Linked DNA regions of Homo sapiens. The protein of the gene in region 2 purifies or fractionates together with the protein of the main gene of each other region. This does not show direct contact. Each region holds a gene or a part of one and is shown on either strand. Other genes may lie near its edges. The genes, in order: TAOK1 and SRBD1.

Region 1 (3,825 bases), on a different chromosome or scaffold from region 2:
TATTAGCAAGCAAGAAGAGGCAGGTAAAGGGAGAAAGCCCCTCACCCAATACCAAATCCTTCTCTCCCAGTGGCCATTTCCTGTTGATTTTACAGTTCAGGAGAATCTTAGATGCTTTAGCAGTAATTCCTTTCTTGGCTGTTTTGATCCTCAGCAAAGTATATAATTATTAGTATTAATGGAGTAAAAAAAGTAAGAGGATCAATGGTATCACTACTAAGAAATACATATAGAAAGCACATAAAGATTGTGTGATTTATTGGTTCTTTTTCTTATCATCTTTGCAGAGGAATCACCATCAGTGTTCTTACTTTCCATGGTTCATTTCTCTCTGCATTACTTATCTCTTATTGCATCACAACACAAACTCACAGAAACACTAACTGGCTCCTTCCCCAGCACCATTTTACTGCATTGCAACTTATGATTCCAAATTTTACTTAATGTCCTCTCCACTCACAGAAGTGCTAAGAGGGGATTAAAAAGGAAAAGACTGCATCTAATGACCACCTTCTCATAAACATCAACGCAGAGTACTCATTCTTAAGAAACACATGCATTCTTGCCTTAACTGAGGACTGAAATAACAAAACCAAACAAAAATAACAGAACTTTTAAGTGCCCTGATGGAAATGTACAGTATGAGTTACATCCATCCATCTATACACACATACAGACACTCATATGTATATACAATATATACATACAAATGATAATAGCTATACCAAAAATGTGCATATTTAATACAGTTTTAAAAAGCCAGTAGATCATGGTATAATACAATTTATTTCCACTAGTGAATGGCACAAATGGAGAAATGCAAAGGAGGTGTTTCAAGTACAATGAAGTCATTTTTCACAGGTGAAAATAAATAGTATTATTCCAGTGTCCAACATAATGTATTCTACAAAAGTTTAAAATGCCAGACATTTAGTACTTACAGAAATAGAAAGTTACTAAAGTCTGCTTTATGGTCTCAAAAAGACACTCATAGAGTTTTCAATTTTTGAAAAGGGGGTGAGAAAAAAATTGGTGGAAGCAGGAGGGAGTGTCCAGGATAGTTTCTTTAGTGTACTGAATGTTTACCTGATGTCTAGGCAACCAAAAATCATGACTATGCTAAAATGTTCCATTTACCAACAAATCCTTGACCTAGAGTACTAAGCATATTACACCAGTGTGTGTGGCTTCAAATACAAGACTCTCTATCTCTAGGTATTGAAATGGCGAATAAGAATTGCAGCTCTGAAAATATAATATAAACACATTTTTCAGATAGCATTATACAAATAAAAATACTTTTGGATACTAGAATTTGGGGTTAGAGCTGACTTCAATAAGGGGAGGAAAAAATATGTGCAAAGGGAAGGGAGCTCAATTTGGAATAATATATTTCAAAGTATGTGGCTTTGCATTTTTAAAATGCTAACCAAAAAAAATGTGAGATAGAGTGACCCCAAGGAACTTTTTACAGCCAGCCTCTGGATACCAGATATAGCATTTACAACTTCTGATATGCTAGACAAATTTTCCATAGTTTTAATTTTCTTAAAGACATATAGTGAGTGAACACCAACACTGGGAAGGAGGTAGTGTTAATTTGATCAAATATTGATATTTCCCCACTGATTCAGAAAGTGCTTGCTCTTTCTCTAGGATATCTCAAAACCCTTCCAATTTTTCTGCTACAAGCTTTACTCTATGATGGTTCCTACTATGTATGAGATTCCTCAGAAGCTAGATCTCACAAACATATACAAACCAATTAATTTGAATCATTTTTTGCAAACTGTATATACTTTAAAGTTAACTTAATGATAAAATCCAGGTATAGTCATGACCTACATGTAAAACTGGTGGCCAAATACATTAGATACAAAACCCTACTGGAGATCTGAATGGACTCAGTAACTCTCAATTTGACTAATTTAAGTCCACAATTGGACTTTAAAATGTACCACCAATAATATTTTGGGTTTGAAAGAGTTTTTGTATGCAAAAGTGATCTGCTTCCCTATTCCACCCATCCAGTAGTACAGAGCAGCCAGATCTATGAATAATTTTTAAGGGTATCAAATTGTATTTTTGACATTTTATTAAATTCTAAAGCTCTCTCGTCATTTTACACCAAATAAGTAATTTCTCAATTTGTTGGAAACGCTATAATACCTGAATGCAAAAAAGATACTGAGACGACTAAAAGCCCCTTTCACTGATATTACAAGTACATGTCATGTCATGTTTACCTAAAAACCGGTGACCTGGAGCATGGGCTGAAAGAACAACACATAAGAGTGCTTCTTGAAACACTGCCTAAAATTTTGTGTGAACTCTATGGTGATCTTGGTTTTAAAAACATTTACATTAAAACATTAATTTTCTTCCAGTTTCCTTAAAATGAATCCCAGAAACTCCTACAGGTGAGGATTCATGGCAACTCGACTGACATACCTGGGAAAGACTTAAAATTTGGTTGAGAAAACCAGGACTTCAACAGTGATAGATTGATTACTGTTTGGTCATTAGTTTGGTCTAGGCAAAGAGTGCCATTGAGAGGGACTTAGAGAGTTCTACCTTGGAGCCCTCTGACTATAGGAAAAGCAGGATCCAGAGTTAGCAGCAAGGATTCTTCAAGACAACTTGGAAGGGAGCAGGACAATAACTTGTAAGAAACTCTGATTTGTCACTGAAAAGGATATTTTTCTTCAAGTCATACTCACAGCTTCCTACCCACCTCCAACACAATTTATATACAAGAAATGGAAAACCAAGAAAATAACTGACTTTTTAGCATTGGGTTCATCCTTCATTGTACAACAAAACATAACAAAACAAAACATGTGCCCCCTGAAAAATAAGAGTTAGCTTTCGTCAAGAGATTCCCTGACCACTATAACTTATTTTACTTTTTTTTTTTAATTGGCCAAACTTCCTAGTTCCTTTTCAGTAGTACTTTAGCACTGAGGCTTGAGACTTGTGGAAGTGGTGTTTCCTATTGTGTGATGTTAACTTGATGCCAAATGGTCACTAAGTCTCAACGAACTAGAAGTTTGTAAAGTACTGCAGCAACGAAAACAGCAATTAAAAATAGAGGACCTGCACATGCAGCAAAATCTACAGTGGTGATGAAGATTAGTCAGCAGCTGGTAAAGTCATTGGCTCAGTGACTCCTGGTTCACTGTGGCAACTAAACATTTAAATAATTGGCTATTCTACTTGTAAACAGAAAATCACATAAGCCAAAAGGAGATAACAATTATGTCTATGTAGTGTGACGAGAATTTCAATAGATGGCAATTTGCAAATATGGCATCAAACACCTCCGGCATTTGATTTGTATTGGCTATATGTCTTTGTTTTTGTACAAACAAAGTAAAAGTACTGTTTGGGGTCTTGGGCATTATAGAGCTTAGCTAGGATGAGATATCACAGTATAAGCAACAAAACGTCAGGACACGTAAGCTTCATCTCCTCACTCTGCTGCGGGACATACCCACCATATGAACTTTCAGGGCCCCTCTCACCCTTCTGGTCTTCCCCATTGAAGGCTCATAGGTTTGTTAATGCAATCCTCACACAACTTGTGATCTCCTTAAGTACCCCCATCTTATCATAATACAAAGAAGGCACAATTGAATGGACAAAAATCACTCACAAGCCTATGACGCATTCAGGAAAAAAGAAAAACTAAGTTGTTTTCTACTCTCTGAAAAAATCAATGAAGTCCTTTAGTGTTCATGGATTTCTACACTTGATCTTAGCCAAAAGGCCGAGAAGCAATGTGTTCATGGATTTCTGCTTTCTTTTTTTAGTCCAAATGAGGCT
Region 2 (3,825 bases):
TAACAGCACCTTCTCTGAGTCCTCACAGTTTCCAATTTCTGGTTCAAGTCCTTTGGGAGACTTGACCACATTCTGTCCCTTTTGTTCTTTGAAAGGTCCCTATGTCCTTGGTGAAAAACTCTTTTCTACTTAAGCTCATTATAAAGAGCTTATATACTTGTAACCTAGAGACAAAAGGTTAAGGCAGGGCCATTTTCTACATCTCTTTCCCTGTAACAGAGGGTGGGAAGCAGAGTCATAGAATAAGTAGCTCTTTACTACGAATAACTTATTACCAAGTCTCAAAGACCAGAGACTTCACAGTCTAAAACTTCTTAACTTCCTCCTGCACACTGCCAACTACCAGAGGTGGATCTATGTCAACAATGGAAATAACCTTAAAAAGCGTTAGAAAAGGAAAAGAGAAGGGAAGTGGTACATGTCCACCTGCCTCTGTAGGCCTGGTCTGGAACCAAGAACTTTAAGAAAGGCTTCAGGGTGAATCTGATGCAGGTAGTCCATGGACCACACTTTAAAACACTGCCTTCTAGGTATAAATGAACAAAGAAAAAGAAGGCATAGAAAGGAGCCTAATTATACTCTGTTTTTCCAAGATACCTTGGACTATTCATTCAGGAACAAGGTAAGAGGAAAAGCTGTAAAGCAACATTCTATTCCTTAGTGCACCACAGAGAAGAAAAATCATGATTAAAAATTACCAGTGACAGGCCAGGCGTGGTGGCTCATGCCTGTAATCCCAGCACTTTGGGAGGCCGAGGCGGGCAGATCACGAGGCAGGCAGATCGAGACCATCCTGGCTAACACGGTGAAACCCTGTCTCTACTAAAAATACGAAAAATTAGCCGGGCGTGGTGGCAGGTGCCTGTAGTCCCAGCTACTCGGGAGGCTGAGGCAGGAGAATGGCATGAACCCGGGAGGTGGAGCTGACAGTGAGCACCACTGCATTCTAGCCTGGGCGACAGAGCAAGACACCGTCTCAAAAAAAAAAAAAAATTACGTTTTACTAAGAGGTAATAGAAAAGGCAGCATGGGTACAAAGACATTTGTGACACACAGGCAGTCCCAGATTGAGAAGTGGAATCAGGATCCAGCAGAGGCCCTCAGCTCTACAGCCACAATCATAGCAAGGGAAAGAGTACACAATAGAATCACATGGGACAGATAACAGGGAGGGAAGTCACCCCCACCTACCCTGAGAGGCACTACCATAATTAAGTCTAAAATGGTCCCAGAATGTGCTGGGACAGACAAAAGCTCACTAGCTACTCTTCGGGTCTCCAATACTGTCCCCAAAGCCAGCCAAAAAAACTGGGAGAAATCTGATTTCCCCTGTAGTAAGACATATAATTCTGGCATCTCAAGTTGGAATTCTTACAGAATTTCCTTTCAAAAATCGCTAGGCCTTGTTGTAGTACATTACAACATTATACTAAGGGTTAAATAGATGTATGAACAGCCAGTGACCTAATCACCTACACTGCTTTTATAGGAAAATACAGTCCAAGTTCAAAGCAAAAACTTAACAATGAACCTGTGGGGGCCCAACCAGTTGGTACAATCTGTCTATATAGTTTATGTTCACTAAAACACCATAGCAAAGGCCAAGAGAGGCCACACATCTTAGCTGAAGAACTGATGATTAGCTACAACACAAAACAGTGTACCCAAGAAAGTTACAAGTAGGAAAGCCTCCAGAAATCACTGGCAAAACTGAAGAGAGAATTGAAAACCCCCAGCCCTTCCCTTAGACAGTACAACCCCTATGCTAGTCAAAAAGAAAGCACTCAAAACAACTAAAGTGACAGAAAAAGGCTGCACATACCTGTACCATGTCCCAATTCATTTCCACCTCCTCTTTAGTACTATTGGCATTTGCTGGAAACTTGACAGGCTGCCCCTGAGGATATGTCTCAGTCTTGATTTTCTTTAAAGCGGACTGACCAAATGTAAAGTCATCGTCATTCTCTTCCTTCTTGCATGTACCTCCCCACACAGTGCTTGTGGATGGTGTCTCTGAACTATTACTCTCACCCTCTAAGTTGCTGGCTTTGCTGGTTTCTTCTTCAACTTTCAGCTTTTTAGTCCTTCGAACTGTATGTGGCTGCGCTGCACATTTCTGTTTTGTCTTGGCTGTTTTCAGAGTCTGTACAGTATCCAATTTATTTTTTCTGTCTTCTAAAGCAGTATCAGCAATAGCCACAGAGCTATTCTATCAAACCACAAAGAGAACATATGAGAATTAGAAGATAAAAAGCAATTTCCTGGGACTATTACTCACAAATAAAAGTGAACAAATTATTGATACACACAATAACTTGGAAGAATCTCAAGTAAATTATGTTGAGTGGGAAAAAAAGCCAATCTCAAAGTTACATACTATATGAATACATTTATATAACATTCCTGAAGAGATTAGAGGTTGGCAAGGGTCAGAGATGATGGGGGGAGGTGGGTGTGGCTATAAAAGGGCAACACTAGGCATCTTTGTGGTGATGGAACTTTTCTGTCATGGTAGATACACAAACCTACATGTGCGATAAAATTGCACAGAACCAAGTACATACATATACATACACATGAATGAATACAAGTAAAACTGGAGAAATCTAAATAAGATCAGTGGATTTTATCAATGTATCTCGGTTGTGACATCTTACTATAGATTTGCAAGATGCTACCATTCGGGAAAAAATGGATAAAGAGTACATGGAATTCTTCTATTATTTCTTCCCATTGCATGTCAACTATTTAGAAATAAGCAGTTTAATTTTTAAAAATGAGTAAAGGATAGGTCTACACATGCCAGAAAACCAAGATTAAAACTTGCTATCAAAGTCAACCACTTAGCAGACAGAAAAGTAACACTCATTCACTCATACAACTCAACAGGCTACACATGCCACCAATTTCTGCTGAAGAGTAGAGGATAGAACACAGAATGATAGCAGGCTAATGTCAGGCATTTTTCTTTAACAAGAGTCCGCACAGCAGCCCACACAGGTGTCTAGGGACTACACTCTGCACTGCCACTGCCCCCCAATCCAAGTGACAGCTCAAGTGTGAAGAAATGAGACTTGGCACCCATCTCGGCACTGGGTATAGTGTAAATAAGATAAAGACCCTACCCCTAAGCTGGTCTGTTCTCCGTTACCTAAATGATGCAGATGGCACAAACATGAACAATTCCCAAACTAAATTTTAGTCAAAATTCTATCTTCTCTTTTATCAAGTATTTTTTCCAGAATCACTATTAAAAATATTAAGAACTACAATAAAGAGCACCTCCACCTGAATGCCAACCTGCCACCACCACCATCTGAACTTGAAAATAATGAACATTAGAGAGCCCTCTGAGTATTAAATTTTTTGCCCAAAATAGAATGGATCAGAGCAGAGACATAAAGATAAAATAACTCCCAGGCCTAAAAGAGTTGATAACCTAATCAAATGAATTGACATATCTAAAGAAAGTGTCAATCATAAAGGGTGTTGTCAGCCACTGTCTTAGCTTCAAGCTATTAAAACATTCAATTGTGATTGTGACAAGCATAATGCCTAGACCACAGTGGACATTCAATAAACTCAAACGAATGGATTTATCTCATCATCCTATTCTGAGTCCATGCTCATCAAGTAAATTTCTGATTACTACTTAATTCCCTATTCAGATTAGGCTCCAAGGAGAACGAAATGCTGGCCATAAGAATTTCAAGTCCTTAAGATTATTATTTTAAACTATTAAATATTAAACCAGCACTCTGGTTGTATTTATCTCTCTTGTGAACACAACTGATGTAAAAACACCCAAGAGAGATATATCTGTTC

Evidence for each region.
Region 1: the proteins of SRBD1 (region 2) and TAOK1 fractionate together in Homo sapiens (co-fractionation; one large-scale study listed by BioGRID). This does not show direct contact.

The regions. Positions count from the first base shown.
Region 1 is NC_000017.11:29,543,577-29,547,401, reverse strand, and holds part of TAOK1 (serine/threonine-protein kinase TAO1), read right to left. Parts: 3' UTR 1-3,825. UniProt on the Homo sapiens protein: Serine/threonine-protein kinase involved in various processes such as p38/MAPK14 stress-activated MAPK cascade, DNA damage response and regulation of cytoskeleton stability. Phosphorylates MAP2K3, MAP2K6 and MARK2.
Region 2 is NC_000002.12:45,597,627-45,601,451, forward strand, and holds part of SRBD1 (S1 RNA-binding domain-containing protein 1), read right to left. Parts: intron 2,210-3,825; coding exon 1,823-2,209; intron 1-1,822.